7 linked regions of the Homo sapiens genome follow. The protein of the gene in region 4 purifies or fractionates together with the protein of the main gene of each other region. This does not show direct contact. Each region holds a gene or a part of one and is shown on either strand. Other genes may lie near its edges.

Region 1 (2,741 bases), on a different chromosome or scaffold from region 4:
CTGGTGGTTGTCTGTCAGTCAGGATCAACTAAATTAAGCCCTAATAACACAACTTTATTGTATTAACACACTGAGATTTAGCAGTTGTTTATTACGCTACATGCCCAAAGGACAGCAGGGGAGTTCTCTTCAACAAAGTCACTTAAGGATCTGGAATGAGAGGTTTCATCTCAACATATACTTCTATGATCACACAGGCAAGAAAAGGAAATATGGCAAATTAAAGACTGGCCCTTAAAGTTCCACTCAGAAGTGACATATATCCCTTTGCACTGGTTTCTTCGGGCAAAGCAAGTCATATAACTAGCTTCAGAATTTTTTTTAAACAATGTACTTAGTAATGTAGTTTTCACCAGAAAAAAAAATGTAGCATGAATTTGTAATTATGTATTTTGCCCTGAATTATCTTGGCTCCCTACTTCACTTTAGAAGAGACGTATCAACCTAAAAGCAGAGGTTTATACTGCACAAATAAAGAGTCAAAAACCAAGACAAAGGTATGCAGTTGCAAAATGGCCATTTATTGCCTACAGGGGAAGGAAAGGGAGGGAGAGAGGGGAAGTACACAGGTGCAAGGAAACAAGCATATATTTAGCCCTATACATCATGTGTGAGCAGTAACCAATCTCCAAAATGGAAAAAAATATTTTGTTATCTGACATAGTAGTTAAGGTTCTTAAGCACCTCCCTTCTGAGCTGCCACAAGATTTAAAAGGCAGGACTGCTTTTTTTTAGTCAATGTTCACATTAATGAAAAAATACTACCAACCGTGTCCTTTTGCACGCACACTTTGTACAGTGTCTATTGTGAAAAACATCTCAGCTGAGCAGTTTTGGTCAAGATTCAGACCTCATCAACTGTTTAACTGTAATAAATAGAAAAATAAAGCAGCTGGTGATTTTGTCAGAGAGAATGTGTTCAGTAAGAGTAGAACCACTTTCTCCAGGGATGGCAGAGAGTGTTAAATGGTTAAAACACCTACAGAACCAGTCTATTAAACATTAAACACTAGCAAGCTACAATTACATGGCACTTCATTAAATAGTCTAATTTAAAAAAAAATCTTAGATTTTAAACTGATTACTGAAACACAAAAACAAGTTGATTTAGTCCTTGGCTTTTTCTTAGAACAAAAGCAAAGTAAATATACAACCTAAAACAGCAGAATTTGTTTTGGAATAGTATCAATGGAAACTACCAAGTATTCAGGGAAAAAGTTACTAAAACACCTTGCTTGGTTTTACAGTCATGTGCTTTGCTTTGCAACCATTAGAATTAGATAGTTACAAAAACACTTTATAGGTCACAGAATGACTCAAATGTATGCAAAATAATGAATTCTTTAACTTAATGCCAGGTAATGAAAATAAATGAACCTTTCCCTACTCAAAACGATAAATTGAGTGGAAAAGTAGATTGTCCCATGGACAATTAGTTGGCACTTGTTATATAGTTGAAAAAAATCACAACAGAAGATATAAATTAATCGATGGTGAATTTGACCAACACCCTGGCCCTTATAGAGAGAAAAAGTACATACACACTCTCTTTAAAAAAAAAAAAAAAAAAAAAAAAAAAAAAAAAAAAAGCCCTCCATACTTCCCCACTCCAGAGACAACAAAGCCAAAGATGAAACATTCAACCTTCTCAAAATATTCCAAGTAGTTCTATTGAACTCTGTATCTCAGCTTCTCCAAGATGAAAAAGTTGTTTGCATTTGGACAACAACTGTACGAATGCCCATAGTGCACATCTCAGTGCTGCTGGTGTTTAAGAAATTTGTCACTCATAACCCTGAACAATTCCAGATCCAGTGTGCAGTAACACAGCCATCCAAATCCCTCCCCTTGAAAAGTTGGCAGAGCACCGCTCAGGAATTTCACAGGTAAGGGAATATATTTTTAGCAAGTTAAGCACAGAGAAAGGACAGTACAGTTTCTAAGTAAATACAGACCCAGATACTGCATCACTTACTGCATCAAGATTGAAACAAGCAGCAGGATACTAAGTCTGTTTGGTAAGAAGCAAAGCCATTGTTTGACATCAATGCTGAACCAATTTTGTGACTTCAGATAACTACAAACTAAATTAAATTGGTACATATAACAATTGATAGCTTGAAAGACAATACATCAGTGATTTGAAGTTAATACGAAACTGAAATGAGCAAGAAAGGACCACTTCTGAGAGGGTTACCATGATTCTTACGCTTTAGAGTTAAAAGTGACAGACATACAACTGGAAAATTATCTAAATTTTGAGAGATTGTTCTAACAAAAATAACTAGTACTAGGCACCAAACTAGAGCCTCCGAAAGATTCTGAAAGCTGAATGGACCATGCTACCACCATGCCAAAAGAGTCATATCACTTGGCATTTGTATATCCTTTCCATAATGTGATTTGTTTCTGATGACATACTTCTAAAATGCAGTTCAATGCTACTCAGTTTATACAATGTACCATAAAAAAAAATTAACAATTAATAAGCACAAATGTCCTTATGTCATAGGCTTTGAAAGTGAAAACTATTTTACTTAAAAAATATTCTATTACTTCAATGTCATGTCTGTTGAACGAAGAACTCAACATGCTTATTTTCCTTTGGTTCCAGGAAAAACCCAAGTCTAACCAAATGTATGCCACAAGGAACTGCCAACTGGGTTAAAGCTTGGTATTTTCCTGGTTATCACCCTATTTCCTGGTGTAGGACCTGGGGTTTAATAGAGACATTTACATAA
Region 2 (3,500 bases), on a different chromosome or scaffold from region 4:
AAAGTGCTGGGATTACAGGCATGAGCTACCGCACCGGGCCTGGGCTTGCCACTTTCAAGGTGTCTTGGCCCAGTTCCCTCCCCTGCCTCTGTGGCTCAGTTTTAGCATCTCTAAAATGGGCTAATGATAGCACCCAACTCACAGGGTTATTACAGCTTCCATGAATTAAATGTTTGCAAACCACTTTGAATGAAGCCTGGCAAAGAGTAAATGTTGTATAAATATTTAATGAAATTCATTAACTAACACATGTTTATTGTGTTCCTACTATCCGCAAGCACTGTTGGAGAAGGTACTGGGCACATGCTGTTGTCACATGATGCTGCCACATGGCATGACACATTTGTCTATGTCCCCAGATTCTGAGTTCTCGAGGGCAGGGGCCTGGCCCACGGTGGGTACTCAGCCACTGTTCTGAAACCACCACCACTTTGGCTTCTCAGACATCCACACCCAGCAGTCTCATCTTCCCCAACAAGAGGCACCAAACGATTGTAACAACTTCCCTGTTCCCTGGCAAAGTTCACAGCACTGACTGAAAGCAAAAGCTAGGGATACTCCAGCCCAGGGCGGAGGCGAGCTCCCAAACAGCCACCAGAATGCCCGAGGCCCTCTGCTGCTGGTGATCCGTGGATGAGAACCTCGGGCTGGCTGTGCCCTGAGGACACTCAGGGGCCGGGCAAGATAAATGGAGCATTAATTGAGAGCCTGAGATCCACAGCCTGCCCCAGCTTTGCTAGGCAACATTTCACAGAAATGAAAACTGAGGCTCACAGCAGGAAAGCGGCTTGCAATGGGCATGGCCCTTTCTGGGTACAGCACAGGATAAAGGTTGGATCTGGAGCCTGACTTCCAAGTTACTTCTCCTCTCTGAGCCTCGGTTTCCATCCTGCAGTGCCACCACCGGGTTTAAATGAGACCGCGTGGAAATCACCAGACGGGTCATAATATGTGTTCCCTGTTCCCCAACTCCTCCCCTGCCAGCCCTGCCAGCCCCCATTGAGACCTTCTCCAAAGAGCAGGGGCCTGGACAGGCCTGCTACAGTGGCCCGGGAGCCTCATCTGCCTGCTACTGCCAGTGATTCATTTGCTTCTCAAGAAATAATTTCTGTAAAGTGACAGCAGGGAGTCTTCCCAGCGCAGCAGCCGCCTCCTATTCTGCCACCCGCCATGGCAATATTGTGACAGGTGCTGGGGAGACCCCGTGCCTCCTGCCTGCCTCCTCACCCTGAGCCAGCCTTTGGCAACCTCCAGGGGCATGGGACAAGGCCACCTCCTGGGAGGAGCACTGACCTTGGGGTCCAGAGACCCAGACGGACTCGTGGCGAGATCTGGGACAGAAGTCTTCACCTCTCTGAACCTCTCATTTGTAAAATGAGCATAATCACTTCCCACTGCTTGGGACTGCTCCCATAATTATCACATATTTAAAGAAGTCATCACTGCACCTAGCACAAAGTAGGTGCTCAATAAACGGAAGCATTAAGCCATATTGATTTATTTTCAAATCCTTTTGCAAAATGTTTTCCTACTGCACTGTTTTAATTGACTTTTACCTCAACCCTGGGAAGCAGAACTCGTAAGAAACCACACCCCCATTGTACAGAGCGACAAACTGAGGTGCAAGAGATTAAATGGCATGCACAGAGTTGTGCTACATTACGGAGAGAACGTAGTCTTCATAGGGTTGCTGGGCAAGCCCACCTTCCCACTGTCCCCATTCCCACGTGGGCATAGTGAAGCTCAGACCACATCGCAGGCAAACCCAGACCAGGACCTGGGCTCCACGGACCCTCCAGAGAACCAGGCATTGCCATTTGCCAGGTTTACTGTTGGGTGAAAACTACCCTCTCTTGTACCAGGTCTAGAATGAGAAACCACATCCTGCTCAGGAAGCCAAGCACCCGGTGCCCAGTGTGGGTGGGAGGACACTCCCCTCGTGGGCAGGCGGCGGCAACATCACAAACCTTCAGCAGTCTCCCATCTGGCCTGGAATTTTCTAAACACCTCACAGTCTGGCAATGCTCAAAGGGCTGTGCAACTCACAGATGCTGCCAGCAAAGGGCACGGGACACCCTCTCCCAGTTTCCAGCTTGGTTCTCAACCTCTGCCCACCCCACAGGGCCAGCACAGATCTGCCTCTGTAGGGCACCCACTCTCTGCCCTGTGAAATCATTCTGAACTTGACTGTTTACACGCCCTGTGCTGTAGCTAGGCGAGCCTGTCTACTTCTTCCACAACCTCCGGACACAGAGCTTAGCATCCCTGTTTTACAGATGAAGAAACTGAGGCTCGAGAGGCAGTGACTAGCCCAAGCTCACTCGGCTTTTAACTCCTGCCCTGGGGCCCCAGCACCCTGCACTGCCAGGCTTGGGGGTTCATTCAAACTTTGAACTTTGGCCCAGGCCTTCTGATTCCAAGTGCAGGCCCTCCCCTCCACAAACAGCCGAATCCCTGGACGTGGTCTGTGTTGTCCGTCTTCTGTCCCATCCTCCTGGAGGCCTACTAGCTCACAGCAGCCAGACACAGAGGCCTCCCTGCTGCATGAGTATTTACTCAGCATGGACCTTGGCCAGGTCCTGGCTGGGATCTGCCAGTGGGAGACGAAGCCAGAGTTGGAGCCGGCCCCCACAGAGCTTCCAGTCGATGCAGGGGCAGACACATGCCAGGTAGTTACAACTCCGGGTGTGGGGGGCTGTGATCGGGAGGTGGTGGGTGCTTAGGACCGCCTGACAGCAGAAAGTCAGGAAAAAGCAACACATCCCTAATCCTGAGCACAGGGACATGACAGGGCTGCCTCCTTCCCGTCCCGGGCCTTCAGCCATCCGCGACATAGGAAATAAATGGAATGCCAGCCGGCCTTCACCTCTCAATGCGATCAAAAGCCAGGACTGCAAATGCAAAGCCCACAGCCTCCGGTGTCACTGACACATGGCACAGTTTAAATCAATTCTCCTGGAAGGCAACGCATCTCGTTGCAGCAAAGGGCGTGTTCAAATTCCGGGTCTACCCTTCTGTGTCCTTCAAACACGGTCATGTGTGGGGACGTGGGCCACAGGACTGAACGGAGAGTCTGGTGTGTGCATCTGCATGTGTATGTGAATGTGTGTGTGTGCACGTACATGTGTGTGAGTGTGAGTGTGCATACACGTGGGGGGAAGGGGGACCCGGGGACCCGCATCCGGTCTCGTTTGCCAAGGCAAAGCCCCGCCTCGCATTCCTCTGAGAAGGAATCTTCAGCGTCAGCTGTCTCCCTGCTTCCTTTTCTTTTCTGGGACCTCATTCCCCTCCCTCTAGCTTGAGGCTCTGAGAATCGCTCCCAAATTTGTCCCCAGTGAGAATGCCAACCCAGCCAAGGGATTCTGTAATATAGTTCTCAAGGGACCCGAGGCGCTAGATGGAGGGGTTTGTGTGTTTCTCTTAAAGGAAGTTGGGAGAAAGGGCTGGGGGATGGCGAGAGATTTCCGGAGGCACAAATCAACTGCTAAGAGTAGGTCAAA
Region 3 (3,500 bases), on a different chromosome or scaffold from region 4:
AAAGATATTAAATTAAATCGGCCAGGCTCAGTGGCTCATGACTATAATATGAACACTTTGAGAGACTGGGGCAGGAAGATCACTGGAGCCCTGGGGTTCAAGACCAGTCCTGGCAACATAGTGAGACCCCCATCTCTACAAAAAAAAATAATAAATTAGCCAGGGGTGGTGACACATGCCTGTGGTCCCAGCTACACAGGAGGCTGAGGCAGGAAGATCACTTGGGTCCAGGTGGTCGAGGCTACAGCGAGCTGTGATCATGCCACTGCACTCCAGCCTAAGAAAGAGGGAGAGAACTTGTCTCAAAAATAAAAAAATAAACAATTTAAGGGTATAAACATAAATACTAATAAAAACAATATAACCATTAAATCTGGAAAATAAAGAAAGTCGGGGGAGAAAAGGAAATGAAAGTAAAACTAATTTAGTAATTGTTACTTGAGGGAAGTCAGTGAGCATATTATATTATATATAAAATCATAGCTTTTAAGGTAACCATCGGAACAAACCCACAAACTTAAAAAAAAAAAGCATGGCCTCCAAAAGCAAAGCAAACACAGATTAAGTTTTTTTTTTAAAAAAAGGTACAGAGGAACAGTGTGTATAATATGCTACGATTTTGTGAAAACAACAAAAAATACATATACATATGCATGAAGACATGTACATATGCCTAGGTAGAAAGACCACACAACAGATTAACAAAGCAAATGCTCCTGAGAAAGAAAACTGGCTGGTTGAGGGGACAAAGTGAAGGAGACAGACTATCTTTTTTTTTTCTATTGAGACAGACTCTTGCTCTCTCACCCAGGCTGGAGTGCAGTAGCAAGATCTCAGCTCACTGCAACCTCCATCTCCCAGGTTCAAGTGATTCTCCTGCCTTAGCCTCCTGAGTAGCTGGGACTACAGGCGTGAGCCATCATGCCTGGCTAATTTTTGTATTTTTAGTAGAGACGAGTTTCGCCATGTTGGCCAGACTGGTCTCAAACTCCCGACCTCAGGTGATCCACCTGCCTCGGCCTTCCAAAGTGCTGGGATTATAGGTGTGAGCCATAATCACATAATGCCCATAATGCCCAGCTAAGACAGACTATCTTTTCACTCTATATGCTTTTTGTAGCCTTTAAGTTGTTGGCCCTAAGTATGTATTTCCCAATCAAGAAAATTAATAAATCTATAATAAAAATGAAAATGGGAATTAAGATATGTATTTTAAAAGATGACACTCCTGGGCCACGCGCGGTGGCTCATGCCTGTAATCCCAGCACTTTGGGAGGCCGAGGTGGGCGGACCACAAGGTCAGGAGATCGAGAACATCCTGGCTAACACAGTGAAACCCCATCTCTACTAAAAATACAAAAAAGTAGCCGGGCATGGTGGCACGTGCCTGTAGTCCCAGCTACTCGAGAGGCTGAGGCAGGAGAATCGCTTGAACCTGGGGGGCAGAGGTTGCAGTAAGCCGAGATCACGCCATTGCACTCCAGCCTGGGCTACACAGTGAGACTCTGTCTCAAAAATAAATAAAAAGAAAAAATAAAAATAAATAAATAAATAAAATAAAATAAAAGATGACACTCCCTGGCACAGCCTCTCTTACCATTTTGTTCCCAGAACGCTAGTGGGTAGCCATATTACTCTCTTAGGTGGAAAACTGATTCTTCTGAGAACTAACAGACATTGATATTTGAGAATTCACCAAACCAAAAGGCTGGTTCAAATCTTTTCTTTTTTTTTGAGACGGAGTTTTGCTCGTTACCAGGCTGGAGTGCAGTGGCACTATCACGGCTTACCACAACCCGCACCTCCAGGGTTCAAGTGGTTCTCCTGCCTCAGCCTCCCGAGTGGCTAGGATTACAGGCATGTGCCACCACACCTGGGTAATTTTGTATTTTTAGTAGAGACGGGGTTTCTCCATGTTGGTCAGGCTGGTCTTCAACTCCCAACCTCAGGTGATCCACCCACCTCGGCCTCCTAAAGTGCTGGGATTACAGGCGTGAGCCACCGTGTCCAGCAGTTCAAGTCTTAATCACCACCAGAATCAGCCAGGCAATAAAATTAACTGTGTACACACAAATCTTCCAGTTAAGTGTTTTAGCGCCTTATTTATTTATTTAGAGATGGAGTCTCACTCTTGTCGCCCAGGCTGGAGTGCAGTGGCACGATCTCGGCTCACTGCAACCTCCGCCTCCTGGGTTCAAGCGATTCTCTTGCCTCAGCCTCCTGAGTAGCTGGGATTACAGGTGCATGCCACCACGCCCAGCTAATTTTTTTATTTTTAGTAGAGACAGGTTCACCATGTTGGCCAGGCTAGTCTCAAACTCCTGACCTCAGTGATCCGCCCGCCTCAGCCTCCCAAAGTGCTGGGATTACAGGCGTGAGCCACCATGCCCGACCTAGTGCCTCATTTAAAAATGTAACAGGCTGGGCATGGCAGCTCATGCCTGTAATCCCAACACTTTGGGTGGTTGAGGTGGGAGGATCACTTGAGCCTAGGAGTTCAAGACCAGTCTAGGCAACACAGGGAAGCAACATAGGGAGATCCCACGTCTCCAAAAAAATTGAAAATAAGCTGGGTGTGGTAGTGTACACCTATAGTCCCAGCTACTTGGGAGGTTGAGGTGGAAGGATCACCTCTGGGAGGTGGAGGCTACAGTGAGCGATTATAGTGCCACTGCACTCCATCCTGGGTGACAGAGTAAGACCCTGTCTCCAAAACCAAAAACGCAAAGAAGTCAACAGAAAACCAAAGTTCGCTAGATACTTAAAGGAAGTTGTGTACATGAAAGAGAGCAGCCCAAACACATAAACAGAACTAAAAAATCTGGAGAAGGCCAGGTGTGGTGGCTCACCCCTATAATACCAGCACTTTGGGAGGTGGAGGTAGGCGGATCACTTGAGGTCAGGAGTTCAAGACCAGCCTGGCCAACATGGTAAAACCCTGTCTCCACTAAAAACACAAAAATTAGCTGGGCGTGGTTGCTGCTGTCTGTAATCCCAGCTACTCGTGAGGCTGAGGCAGGAGAATTGCTTGAACCTGGGAGATGGAGGTTGCAGTGAGCCAAGATCGTACCACTGCACTCTAGCCTGGGTGACAGAGTGAGACTCTGTCTCAAAATAAATAAATAAAATAAAGCAATTATTAACTCAAGGCAAAACCAAGCATAAGAAAGGGACAAACATAATACACTTCCATGCAGTAAACAATACTTAGTCAATAATGTAAATACTATCAACCAAAAATTACGGTATAATTATATCAGAAGGAGAGAGGGAAGGAAAATTGGACATTAAAGAGAATTACCATAATAATAAGTTAATAGGCTGGGCACAGTGCTCATGCCTGTAATCCCAGCATTTTCAGACGCTGAGGTGGGCGGATCGCTTGAGGTCAGGAGTTCAAGACCAGCCTGACCAACATGGTGAAACCCTGTCTCTACTAAAAATACAAAAAATTAGCCGGGCATGGTGGCAGTCGCCTGTAACCCCAGCTACTTGGGAGG
Region 4 (3,308 bases):
TAGGTATCCATCACCTAGCCCCTGCACTGTGTTCAAGCGCACCGAGACAAGAGCGCGGGACGATTTCCTTCTATTCCTGCCCCAGGTGGAGACTCTTCTCTGTTCATCCACTATCCAAAAGGAACTGCTGAGCAGTCGTCCATTCCAGGCCTTTCTCTCATCCTCTGAGAATCTGGCTCTGGCACCACCCAGCTTCAATAGAATTACCTCCCCCAGAAGGAACTGCAGTTTCCCAAAGCCCAAAGGGCCCTGGCTCAGGGCATATACACTCGACTGCTGTCATCTAGAGCCCCAAACCCTCACCCATGTTTTATTTTCCTCTACTTCTTAGAGGACATGGCACCACCTTAATTTTAGGATTGTAGCCCCTAGACTTCACCACCCTATGGCAAAGGGGTGGGTCTGGCTTACCGAGCATCTCTACTACTAACCCAGGGTGTTCCGAATAACAGATGTTCAGTGCGTGTCTGAAGAAAAAATGAGCCAGTGAACAGGAAAAATTATTCTTTCAATTTTTATTTCTCTTACATGCTCAAAGAAGCCAAGCAAATCCAGGTATACATGTATATGTTTTAATTTTACAGGAGAGAGAAAGAGGTATAAGGCAAGAATTAACTACATTTTCATTTCACTATTTCTTTATGAGCTCTATTTTGCTGCTAAGTTCAAGTTTCAAAAAAATTATTAATTCCTCTGCTATGTTATCTTGTCCCAATTCACAAAATAACAGGGATTTCCCCATGTGACTCAAAAGCAAGAATCTTACTCCTAAATAACATAAACAGCAATATGTGTGACTACTGTCATTCATTAACTTCGATGGTGAAGTTCATTAAACTGACCATTAAAAGAACATTTGAACAATTCCAAAAGGGAGCAAGGATAAATCTCCAAATCACCCAATAGACAAGGAACCCAGAGATGACATACAGTGTGCTCACTTCCACCCACTGCCACTGAGAACACTGATTGCTCTCTTCAAACACAGAGCGAAGAATGGGCCTCATGTCACATGGGGCAGGGCAGCTGCTGGATGGGGCCCTGACCCCACAAACTTTGGCCCCGGCTGCGGCTGGTGCTCAGACTCCCTCTTGCTCCTCTCCCAAAACCTCTTCATAAAGGGATGGGTAGCAGATGGGCTCTCTTGCATTGAGCATGACCAAATAATTTATGACCTTCTCATAGCTGGTTTCAGCGTGGGCCTTGGAACCCCACAGGAACTCGTAGTGCGCAGGATCACTGCCGGGCACCTGCCGGTACTCCAGGTAGTTTTCCTGCACCCAATCTTGGGTGAGCAGCTTCCTGGGCTCCCCGTAGAACATGTGCTCCTTCCCAACATACACCCCCATCACACTCAACGCTTCCCAGATAACCTCTTCAGGGGCGCAGTTGTCTTTGGTTAGGATCACACCCAGGACAATGATCAGGAGGGCGGCCTTGGGCATGCTATGACCATCACCCAGCATGCTATCGCACGAGAGGCCAAGAGCAGTGACAAGGATGTAGGAGTGGCCGGCGGGGTCCACCTCCTTCACATCAGTGCCAAAGATCACCTGCATGAACTCGGAGGCTTTGCCGAAGATCACAGGAAAGTAGCGCTTGTAATTTTTGATGACGCTCTCCAGCATTTCTGCCTTTGTGACCGGCTCCTTGACTCGATATTTGTGGAGCAGGAAATGAACCAACTCAGCCACCTTCAATTTCAGTGCTTCTTGGAACATGAACTCCAGCTGAGCTGGGTCGACCGAGGAGCTTGGCTCTTCCTCTTCTTGACTGCTGGAGCCCTCATCGAATTGGCTCCATAAAGTGTAGTAGACGGAAATGGAGGAGGAAGCGCCTCCCTGAGGACTCTGGGGAGGACTTGATGACCCAGCAGCAGACACCTCCTCCTCCTTGCTGTCAGAGGAGGAGGTAGTCTCCTCCTCCTCGCCTGTGGGTTCCTGTGCACCCATCAGGCCCAAGTCCTCTCCTTGGGCTTCAAGGTCTTCATCAGGCTTGCAGTGCGGACTCCTCTGCTCGAGAGACATGATGACTCTGGTCAGGGCAGCAGTCAGGAGCGTGGGCAGGAGCTGGGCGATGGAGACCCACAGGCCTGGGGAGAGAGGGAGTGTGTGAGAGACTTCAGCTGAGAACCGAACCTTGGAGGTTCTAACAAAGGCTGACTTACAGGTCTTCGTCAGTGCTGCTCTGGGGCCTCTTGGGGCTCCTGTCCTCCTGGTTAGCCTGTCCCGAGAACCTGAGGGAGGAAGTGAGAGGGCTACTCAGCGTGCAGCTAGCCTGCAGAGATCAAGGCTCTATGAGTGACAGTAGGGGGAATGGGGCCAGGTGCTATGGGGTCCCATGTGTGCTGGGGCAGGTGGGGCCCTTGGTGCACATTCAGGGTGAACACTTCACCTTCACTGCTGACACTGCCTGGGTCTCCTCTGCTCTGCGACCTGAGGACACTGTCTCAGACCAAGGCCTGCCTGCTTCCTGGAGCTCCTGGAAGAGGAATCGAGGGGCCCTTAGGCTGCAGACTGCAGGCAGAGCCCCGGTCCCTCAGTGCTGTCAAGATGGCGGGCTGGACACTCTTGAGTTCTACACACTTTTGGGGTGGATGGTCCCCTCTGCGCTCACTCAGGGCCCTGACCTTTCTCCTGGCAGGGACTGGACTCTACTCCTCTACTTGCCTGAGAGTCTCTCAGATCAGGAGCTCACATCCCTGATATGGAACAGAAGGACATGCCCCAACCAACATCTGCCCACACCTGCCCAGGGTTTCCTCGGAAGTACAGTAAGAGATGTCTAAATTCAATGGGGTCCATGTGTCCTGGGGTGAGGATACTGCCTGGTCCTCATCTTGATGCCTGCAGGGTCTGGAACCCTCCCTCTGTTGACCTGAGGCCCTATCTCCAGGAGACACCTGAAGAGGAAGTGAGGGGAGTCCATCCACCCAGCGGCTTCCCTCAGCTGACACAAGGGGCAGGGTGGGGCTAGGTCCTCTGTGTTTGGTGAGTGGGGTCCCCTCAGTCTGCACCTGGACTCCTGGCAGGGCCTGGGACCCTCCCTCTGCTGACGTGAGTGCAGCCCCCTCAGACCAAGGCCAGCCCTCCCCGACACCAGTGATCCCAGGATAAAGGAGGGACCTCAGCAGACAGCCCTGCCCGGGCTCTCTGGGGTGACAGTAGGGGCAGGGCAAACTCTCTTGATCTGAGAGTTTCTCTGGCCTGGAGGTACCCTCGATCCTCCCTTAGGTTCCTCACCTGGACTGCTCTCCAATCCTGGGACCACTGTGTCTGTCGAACACAGGGCCTCCCTGTTTTGTCCAC
Region 5 (3,500 bases), on a different chromosome or scaffold from region 4:
CACTGAGAGTCTGATTCTGTGGGGTAAATTAAAAACTCCTCTTCCTGAAGTACTGCGGTATTTAATTTGAGAAGTTTCTATGCAGGAAGAGAGTTCTAAGTCTCTTCCTTTTAGTGTTTTTGTTTTGTTTTGTTTGTTTTGAGACAGATTCTCATTCTATTGCCCAGGCTGGAGTGCAGTGGCAGTCCCGGAGCCCTGAACTCCTGGGATCAAATGATCCACCTCAACCTCTCAAAGTGTTGAGATTACAGGCGTAGCCACCATGCCCAGCCTCTTTCTCTTAGTGTTGACTGTGTTAACGTTGAGCCCCATGCTTGTTTAATGAGGCTCATAAGATGAATAGTGTTCAGTCATTTCCTGGCGTGTCATTGTTACTAGTTATTTACATCTGCACGTCAACAGTGTGTCAAGGCACAGTATGAGTTTCTGTCGACTAAATTGTAGGGAGAACTTGAGGACCTTCAAGAAGATTGAACTTTATTGTGAACAGGTAGAGTACCTGTTGTTGCAGAGTTATTTTCTGAGTCAGTTTCAGGTAAGGCTAAGAGTTTTATAAATGTGCTTCTTTATATCATGGTGTTTCTTACCAAGGGAAAGATCAAATCTTTGAGCAAAATTTAGAAAGGAAGAGAGTAGGTTTTATGGCTGTAGAATGCTGGGAGCCTGAGTAAAGTAAAAGATTAACTTGTGTATGGTGGTTTAGGGGAATTTAAAAGGAAAGATGGCAGTTTTTATATAAAGCAACTGACATACTGTCTCCATACGTGCTTCAAGTTGTTTTTGCAACAAGGGTGGTGATTTACGTAGAACCGTCAGTGGTTCAGAGCTGCTGTAACAAAGGTAACTCTAAAGCCAGTTAACCTCCATGGGGATCAGTCAGACCCATCATTGTTCCTGTCTTGACCTCTGTGCTCTAATAAACTTCCCTAAATACTACTTTAGCTGCTGTGTGTTATATCTACATTAATAGCTAAATTAGCCTGAAGGCCTAATTAATATTCAGTGTAATTTAATACAGGAAACATGCCCTCTTCTCAACCTTTATAGTATGAAGAAATTTTAAATTACCTGGTCAGTGAACAAACTCCCTCTGTCAAATATAGTCATGATAGACCTGGCACAATGTAGGGACTATGGGGAGTGTTAGAGGATCAAAGACAGAATTGGGGAAGGGGTATAGTTACTGGATGTTACTTGTTCTGTGAGAGATGTGTGGATGTTCTATAAGAAAATAATAATGTTTTTTGTTTGTATTTAAAACTAGATAGCTGTTTATTGGCACCCTTTTAGTTGGATAAGAGAAAATACATTGCTTGGTTTCTACAAGTGAGTCTTAGCAAATTTATTGTAGTTATTTTAGGAAGAGTAATTGATAGTGCAGTAATCTTCAGTTTTTAAAAAGCCCTGATAAGGTTTAACTGGGCTTTAAAAGCATTATATGCTTAATGAGAAATTCTAACTTAATATATGTATGTCTTGATACTGTTATGTAACCTTTCCAGTTTAGGGCCTTCAAGATTCACATGAATACAGGCTTTCCTTTATGTAGGAATCATTCTCATGGGGGAAATTATATATCCTCTCAGGGAATAATTTTGTTTTTTAAGCATTTGAAATAATTGTTTGTAATATTCGTTAAAGAACACATCATTAGCAGAATTCTGAAGTCTTATAATAGCTTGAGATTTCTTAAATTGTTTTTATCCTTTTTGAGACAGTCTTGCTCTGTCGCCCAGGGTGGAGTGCAGTGGTACGAGATCTCAGCTCACTGCAACCTCCACCTCCTGGGTTCAAGTGATTCTCCTGCCTCAGCCTCCCAAGTAGCTGAGATTACAGGCGTGTGCCACCACACCCAGCTAATTTTTTGTATTTTTAGTAGAGACAGGGTTTCACTATGTTGGCCAGGCTGGTTTCAAACTCCTGACCTCAAGTGATCCGCCCACCTCAGCCTCCCAAAGTGCTGGGATTAAAGGCGTGAGCCACTGTGCCAGGCCAAATGGTTTTTATCTTAGTTTTGAGATCCTGCTCTTTAACATTTTGGAGATGGAAACTTTTTGCCATTATACCCTCCACCCTTCCGTCTCTTAGGACTTCCTGTTTTTCATCATCATTAGCCACGTGGAAAGGAAAGACAGTGTGTGCCTATGAAAATACTGACAAATCAAGATGATTTTTCCTTTTAGATTAAGAAAAATTCTGAAACAGTAAATGGTAAATTTTGTCATATTTATTTACTTATTTTAGAGATGAGGTCTCACTATGTTGCCCAGATTAGCCTTGAACTCCTGGGCTCAAGTGATCCTCCTGCTGTAGCCTCCTGAGCTGGGGCTATAGGCATGTGCCACACTGTCTGGTTAGTCACCCTTCATTGACATTTGGGCATTTGATATTTAAATTGACAGTATCTAGGCAATTATAGAAATTAACATTATTTTGCAATTGGCATATGTATTAAATTTTCTTATGAGAATAATTGCCCTGTTTTTTTCTGGAGAGCCACTACCTGATTAAATAATCACATATTTTTTCTACCTTAGCTGCATTTTGAAAACTCAGTGAATTAGGTGACTGTGGTTTTCTAATTTGAATGAAGGTAAAGTAACCTTTAAAAATGGTTTTTGGCCAGTCACAGCCATGCCTGGGACTCACGCCTGTAGTCCTAGCTACTCTGGAGGCTGAGGTGGGAGGATCACCTAAGCACAGGAGGTCAAGGCTGCAGTGAAGCATGACTGCACCACTGTGCTCTGCACTCCAGCCTGGGTGACAGAGTAAGACCCTGTCTCAAAAATACATACATAAATGAATTAAATACTTTTTTATATTATAGATTTTGAAATAAGTTATTAAAAAATTTGGGAACTTTATAAGATCAAATGCTGCTGTCCTTGAGTATTTGATAGTATACTGCTTATATTTTGATTTTTTGTATGCATTGTCCTTGTTCATTATTTTTCTCTTCTGCAGCTTTTATTCCCAGTATACAACTAAATCTTAAAAATAATTTTTAGATGAACTGAAAAACATTGCCTAAGATTTTTCAATAAGGATTTTTGTGAAAATGTGTGTGGTTTGTTATTTAGAGATGAGATCTCACTGTTTTGCCCAGGCTAGTCCTGAACTCCTGGGCTCAAGTGATCCTCCTGCCTTGACTTCCCAAAATACTGGGATTATAGACGTGAGCCACCACTCCCAGCCAAATGTATGTTTTATTTATTGAATAATAAATAGTGGAGTTATTTATTTATGTGTGTGATATGTGGTTTTTTTAATTATTAATTTTTTAGAAAAATAGAAGCAGGGTTTCGCCATGTTGCCTAGGGTGGTCTTGAACTCCTGAGCTCGAGCAGAGTGCCTACTTCAGCCTCTCAAAGTGCTGGGATTACAGGTGTGAGTCACTGCACCAGGCCTGAGTTATTTGTTTTTACCTCATGAAACAACAACTAACATTTTAGATTTTTTTTTCCACTTGTGAAGCATGAAAAAGTTTACTTAAATTGGAT
Region 6 (3,225 bases), on a different chromosome or scaffold from region 4:
TATACTTCCCATTTAAGCAAAAGTTAATTTGGTTTTACAGATACAGATACCAGGTTCTGGCAGCTTGGAGAATAAGTGTAACAATTTGGTAAAACTTGTATAATTCTGACTGACCTATAATATTACAGAGTGAATTTCAAGTTATTGCTTTTTGATTACAGAATAAAAAATTCATTCTCTTGCAAAACTTTTATACAGAATGAGTAACCATTTCCTATTCAAGTAACAGCAATCAGAATCAGAAGTTCCTTACACAACAGTAGATGCTTGAGACATTTTTTGAATGGAGATGTGATTTCATTCTGTTCAAGAACTTATGCAGGAAACTGGGAGTGACTTAATTTTTCAAAAGTACAAGAAAATCAGCACCCCAACTGCTTAGTGCTCAGGAGGGTTTCTCAAGGGCTCTATAAAGCTCAGCTTGTGGTGAGTTCACACCCACCTTTAGAAGGATTCCCATTCTACTTATGCAGCCTTGTTTCAGAACACAAAGCTTGTATTAAAACATTAAAAGAGGATTAAAAGCAGTGTTGGTTTTTAACATTCAGAATTCACAGAGGATCTCATTTTCTGTAATTAAATGATCTATTTTGTGTTTTTTGCTGCAGAATCACATTCATATGGCAGTCATATTTCAGGCACTTTTAAAACATGTTCATCTGGAATAAAAATCTGCATGAACCACTTCTGCATAATTCAAAATGAGTGTTGAGTGATTCTAGTTCTCAAATAGATAGCAAATCACCACCTGGTGATTCGCTTTCTTCATCACAACATGACGGTGACTGCTGAGCTTGAGACATCTTTGAGGTGCCTTTCTGGCTTCAGTAAAAAGATGTGAGCCATAAAAATCCAAACTACTCAGTTTCTACTTAAAAAAATACAAAATGGTGAAATATACTAAATGTATTATACAGATGGTTTCAGCTACTATCAAAATAAATAACATAATCTGACTCAGAAGTCTGACTGAGCTTTTGGACGAAATCTGATGGAATGTCAAACGTGGAGACTCCCTCCTAGGGACTAGCTGCTGGTAGGCAAAAGTAACTCAACATCCTTACCATTTGCTACAACAGTATTGGAAGAGCAGCTGCTGGCAAGGTCTTCTGCAGTGGTCAAAGAGGCTGCCTGGGAATGAGTTTTGGTCAATGGAGTGGTAGCAGATGGAGAAGGGGTGAGGCCAGGTTTCTTGGGTGGGATGGGTGGAGGGTTTCCTCTCTCAGCTCTGGGGATGGTTGGGGACTTGATTCCTGGAGACAGGGGGCTCAGGGGACTGGACACTTTCCCTGGAGTAGGTGAATGGCTTGTGTCACCTCTTGGATTGGCAGTGTTGGCTAGATTTCGATAGTCTGTGCCAAAGGGAGAGCTGTTGGGAGAGACTGGCTTGATTGGCCCTTGTTGGCTAGTGAATCTGGAGAGCACCTGAGTGACTGTGTTTCGGGCCAGCTGCTTGGCGGCAGAGTTGTCTATGAGGGTGGGGGATAAATCCCTGGATGGAGGGCTCTGTAGGCCACTGGCTTGTTGGTCCTGATCTGCTTGGGACTGAAATTTGTGGCGAGCTGCATGGAACCGTTGGTTGATCCCTACTTGGTACGATGACTGGTAGCCAGGGCTGCTAGCTGATGACCCCAATAAACGCTTAGTGAGTACCGGCGAAGAGCAAGGAGAGGATGTTAGAGAGGAGGAGGCAGTGCTGCTGGGAGACAGTGAGCTCCCACTGGAAGAGAGGGGACTGGGCATTGGGACTGGAGTCTCAATCCCCACAGGACACCCACCATTCTCCACTGGTTTCTCTTGGGCCAATGCCACAGATTTTTCCCGTGGAGGCACCTGGTTTTCTACATTGTTGCCTGCAGTCAGCTCCCTGGTAGTTTGTATCTCTGGGTCACAATGGCCATTGGTTTTTGCATATGAGTAAGCAGGAGTGGCAGGACCAGGCAGCCCAGTGTTTGTCATCTTGGCTATGTTGCTCCCATGGGTTCTTTCTGCTGGAAAACTCTCTGTTTGGCAAAACACAGACATTAGCATGAGAGGCTCAGTTGCTGTGCCTTTGGACACGGTTACTGGTTTCTTCAATTGCTCATTAGGGCTACTGTGCTGGTGGGAAGCCTCTAGGTCCTTCACTATCTTCTTTAAACTTTCCATTTCTTCTTTCAGGGTTTTGGTCCGGTTCTCTTCTCGGTTCAGTTTTGCTCTCAGTTGTTCCCTTTCGATGTCAAACTCTGATAACTGCTTCTCTACCTGGGCCTCAGTCTGCAAGCCTCTCTTTCTCTCAGCTGCCAACTCTTCTTCCAGTTTACTCACCCGGCTCTTCTCCTTCTCCAATTTCAGGCTCAGCTCTCCTGCCTTCTGTCCTTCCTCGGCTGCCTTGTTGGTGGCTTTCTTGCACTCAAGCACTAGCATGGATGAGAGCTGCTTGTGGCGGGAGCGCTCCTCTTCCAGCTGACTAGAGAGCTTCTTCTGTTCTTTTTCAAACTTTTTCACTTGGGATTTTTCAAATTCCAACTAGAAAAAAAAAGAAAAGAGAGACATACTGACAAACTGTGATCAAGTAGACTGTCTTCGTTAGCTGTTCTCTGGTATACAGGATTAACATGCACATCACAGTGCTTAGATCAAGTATTTCTGAAATTTTAGAACACCTAACACAAAAAATGCACACACTATGATTTAATCTTTCTTTGATGATTTGGGAGGCACTTCTAGTTCCCATACTGTCTTGCAGTGATTAGTGGGAATATGACGTATCTTTGTGTTTCACGTATGTGGAGAGCATCAGAACCAATCAAAACAAGATAACAGAAAGCTGTATCAACCACATTTTGTGATGAATGTTGCTGAAAACAAACATTTTAAAGTTTCAGCAATAATTTTCTTGGGTCTCAGAAACAAACACACACAAATAGTTGCATTTGAATCATACTTTTTTTTGGAGACTGAGTTTCACTCTTGTCTCCCAGGCTGGAGTGCAATGGTGCAATATTGGCTCACTGCAACCTCCGCCTTCTGGGTTCAAGCGATTCTCCTGCCTCAGCCTCCCGGGTAGCTGGGATCAGTCATGCGCCACCACACCCGCCTAATTTTGTATTTTTAGTAGAGACAGGGTTTTTCCATGTTGGTCAGGCTGGTCTCAAACTCCTGACCTTAGGTGATCCACCCACCTCGGCCTCCAAAAGTGCTGGGATTACAGGCGTGAACCACTGTGCCCAGCCTGAATCATAT
Region 7 (2,215 bases), on a different chromosome or scaffold from region 4:
CAGCCTGGCCAACGTGGCGAAACCCCATGTCTACTAAATACAAAAAATTAGCCGAGTATGGTGGCGGGCGCCTGTAATCTCAGCTACTTGGGAGGCTGAGGCAGGAGAATTACTTGAACCAGGGAGGCAAAGGTTGTAGTGAGTCAAGATCGTGCCACTGCACTCTAGCCTGGGTGACAGAGCAAGACTCCATCTCAGAAAAAAAAAAAGAGAAACTAGTGCCTAGACCAAACTGTGTCCGTGTTCATGGGATTGGAATGAGGACATGAGATTCATGAACCATTTAGATATACAAGCATGAAAATCTTACAAGGTACCCCCCAAAATATGTACTCTCTCTCTATATATATATGTTTTTGAGACAGAGTCTCACTCGTCACCCAGGCTGGAGTTTAGTGGTGCAATCTTGGCTCACTGCAGCCTCCGCCTCCTGGGTTCAAGCGATTCTCCTTCCTCAGCCTCCTGCGTACCTGGGATTACAGGTGCGTGCCACCATGCCTGGCTAATTTTTTGTATTTTTAGTAGAGATGGGGTTTTACCATGTTGGCCAGGCTGGTCTTGAACTCCTGATCTTAAGTGATCCGCCTGCCTCAGCCTCCCAAAGTGCTGGGATTACAGGTGTGAGCCACCATGCCCAGCCTATATATCTGGTTGGTTTTTGTTTGTTTGTTTGTTTGTTTGTTTTGGGGGGGGATGGAGTTTCGCTTTTGTCCCCCAGGCTGGAGTGCAACGGCACCATCTCGGCTCACCACAACCTCCACCTCCCAGGTTCAAGCAATTCTCCTGCCTCAGCCTCCCAAGTAGCTGGGATTACAGGCATGTGCCACCACGCCCAGCTAATTTTGTATTTTTAGTAGAGACGGGATTTCTCCATGTTGGTCAGGCTGGTCTCGAACTCCCTACCTCAGGTGATCCTCCCGCCCCGACCTCCCAAAGTGCTGGGATTACAGGCGTGAGCCACCACGCCCAGTCGTATATCTATTATTTAAAAAGAATCATTTGACCGGGCGCAATGGCTCACGCCTGTAATCCTGTCACTTTGGGAGGCTGAGGCGGCCACATCAACTAAGGTCGGGAGTTTGAAACCAGCCTGGCCAACATGGTGAAACCCCGTCTCTACTAAAAATACAAAAATTAGCCAGGCATGGTGGCAGGCATCTGTTATCCCAGCTACTTGGGAGGCTGAGGCAGGAGAATCACTTGAGCCCAGGAGGCGAAGGTTATAGTGAGCCGAGATGGTGCCACTGCACTCCAGCCTGGGCAACAGAGCAAGACTGTCTCAAAAATAAAATAAAATAATCATTTGGCCAGGTGCAGTGAGTCATGCCTGTAATCCCAACACTTTGGGAGGTCAAGGAAGGAAGATCACTTGAGCTCAGGAGTTCGAGACCAGCCTGGGTAACATGGCCCCATCTCTACAAAAAATAAAAATAAATAAATATCCCAAAGGTGGTGTGTGCAGCAAAAATTATAATAAAAAGAACTGAGGGTAGGGATAGCATTAGGAGATATACCCAATGTAAATGACAAGTTAATGGGTGCAGCACACCAACATAGTTCATGTATACATATGTAACAAACCTGCACGTTGTGCACATGTACCCTAGAACTTAAAGTATAATAATAAAAAAAGAAAGAAAGAAAGAAAAAAACCATTTAGGGAGCAGAATTGAGGAGGATTTGGTGACAAGTACGGTGAAAGAATAAAGTCACTCGGGCTGGGCGCGGTGGCTTATGCCTATAATCCCAGCACTTTGGGAGGCCAAGGCAGGCAGATCACAAGGTCAGGAGATCAAGACCATCCTGGCCAACATAGTGAAACCCTGTCTCTACTAAAAAATAAAAAAAAATAGCCTGGTGTGGTGGCGCGTACCTGTAGTCTCAGCTACTCGGGAGGCTGAGTTGTATACCTATTATTTAAAAAGAATCATTTGACCGGGCGTGATGGCTCACGCCTGTAATCCTAGCACTTTAGGAGGCTGATGCAGGCAGATCAACTAAGGTCGGGAATTTGAGACCAGCCTGGCTAACAAGGTGAAATCTTGTCTCTACTAAAAATACAAAAATTAGCCAGGCATGGTGGCAGGCACCTGTAATCCCAGCTACTTGGGAGGCTGAGGCAGGAGAATCACTTGAACCCGGGAGGCGGAGGTTGCAGTGAGCCGAGATCACGCCACTGCACTCCAACCTGGCGACAGAGCAAGACTCCGTCTTA

What was found.
Region 1: the proteins of MAGEA9 (region 4) and CNOT6L purify together in Homo sapiens (affinity purification with mass spectrometry, with the first as the bait; one large-scale study listed by BioGRID). This does not show direct contact.
Region 2: the proteins of MAGEA9 (region 4) and IFFO2 purify together in Homo sapiens (affinity purification with mass spectrometry, with the first as the bait; one large-scale study listed by BioGRID). This does not show direct contact.
Region 3: the proteins of MAGEA9 (region 4) and MTO1 purify together in Homo sapiens (affinity purification with mass spectrometry, with the first as the bait; one large-scale study listed by BioGRID). This does not show direct contact.
Region 5: the proteins of MAGEA9 (region 4) and CNST purify together in Homo sapiens (affinity purification with mass spectrometry, with the first as the bait; one large-scale study listed by BioGRID). This does not show direct contact.
Region 6: the proteins of MAGEA9 (region 4) and CTTNBP2NL purify together in Homo sapiens (affinity purification with mass spectrometry, with the first as the bait; one large-scale study listed by BioGRID). This does not show direct contact.
Region 7: the proteins of MAGEA9 (region 4) and KIF2C purify together in Homo sapiens (affinity purification with mass spectrometry, with the first as the bait; one large-scale study listed by BioGRID). This does not show direct contact.

Annotation. Positions count from the first base shown.
Region 1 is NC_000004.12:77,712,887-77,715,627, forward strand, and holds the end of CNOT6L (CCR4-NOT transcription complex subunit 6-like), read right to left. Parts: 3' UTR 501-2,741; downstream 1-500. UniProt on the Homo sapiens protein: Has 3'-5' poly(A) exoribonuclease activity for synthetic poly(A) RNA substrate.
Region 2 is NC_000001.11:18,946,677-18,950,176, forward strand, and holds part of IFFO2 (intermediate filament family orphan 2), read right to left. Parts: intron 1-3,500.
Region 3 is NC_000006.12:73,468,237-73,471,736, reverse strand, and holds part of MTO1 (5-taurinomethyluridine-[tRNA] synthase subunit MTO1, mitochondrial), read right to left. Parts: intron 1-3,500. UniProt on the Homo sapiens protein: Component of the GTPBP3-MTO1 complex that catalyzes the 5-taurinomethyluridine (taum(5)U) modification at the 34th wobble position (U34) of mitochondrial tRNAs (mt-tRNAs), which plays a role in mt-tRNA decoding and mitochondrial translation.
Region 4 is NC_000023.11:149,784,930-149,788,237, reverse strand, and holds the end of MAGEA9 (melanoma-associated antigen 9), read right to left. Parts: intron 2,482-3,308; 5' UTR 2,395-2,481; intron 2,237-2,394; 5' UTR 2,168-2,236; intron 2,093-2,167; 5' UTR 2,028-2,092; coding exon 1,080-2,027; 3' UTR 501-1,079; downstream 1-500. UniProt on the Homo sapiens protein: Not known, though may play a role in embryonal development and tumor transformation or aspects of tumor progression.
Region 5 is NC_000001.11:246,569,456-246,572,955, forward strand, and holds part of CNST (consortin), read left to right. Parts: intron 1-413; exon of another isoform or gene 414-418; coding exon of another isoform or gene 419-535; intron 536-3,500. UniProt on the Homo sapiens protein: Required for targeting of connexins to the plasma membrane.
Region 6 is NC_000001.11:112,455,214-112,458,438, reverse strand, and holds part of CTTNBP2NL (CTTNBP2 N-terminal-like protein), read right to left. Parts: intron 2,509-3,225; coding exon 1,027-2,508; 3' UTR 1-1,026. UniProt on the Homo sapiens protein: Regulates lamellipodial actin dynamics in a CTTN-dependent manner. Associates with core striatin-interacting phosphatase and kinase (STRIPAK) complex to form CTTNBP2NL-STRIPAK complexes.
Region 7 is NC_000001.11:44,763,837-44,766,051, forward strand, and holds part of KIF2C (kinesin-like protein KIF2C), read left to right. Parts: intron 1-2,215. UniProt on the Homo sapiens protein: In complex with KIF18B, constitutes the major microtubule plus-end depolymerizing activity in mitotic cells. Regulates the turnover of microtubules at the kinetochore and functions in chromosome segregation during mitosis.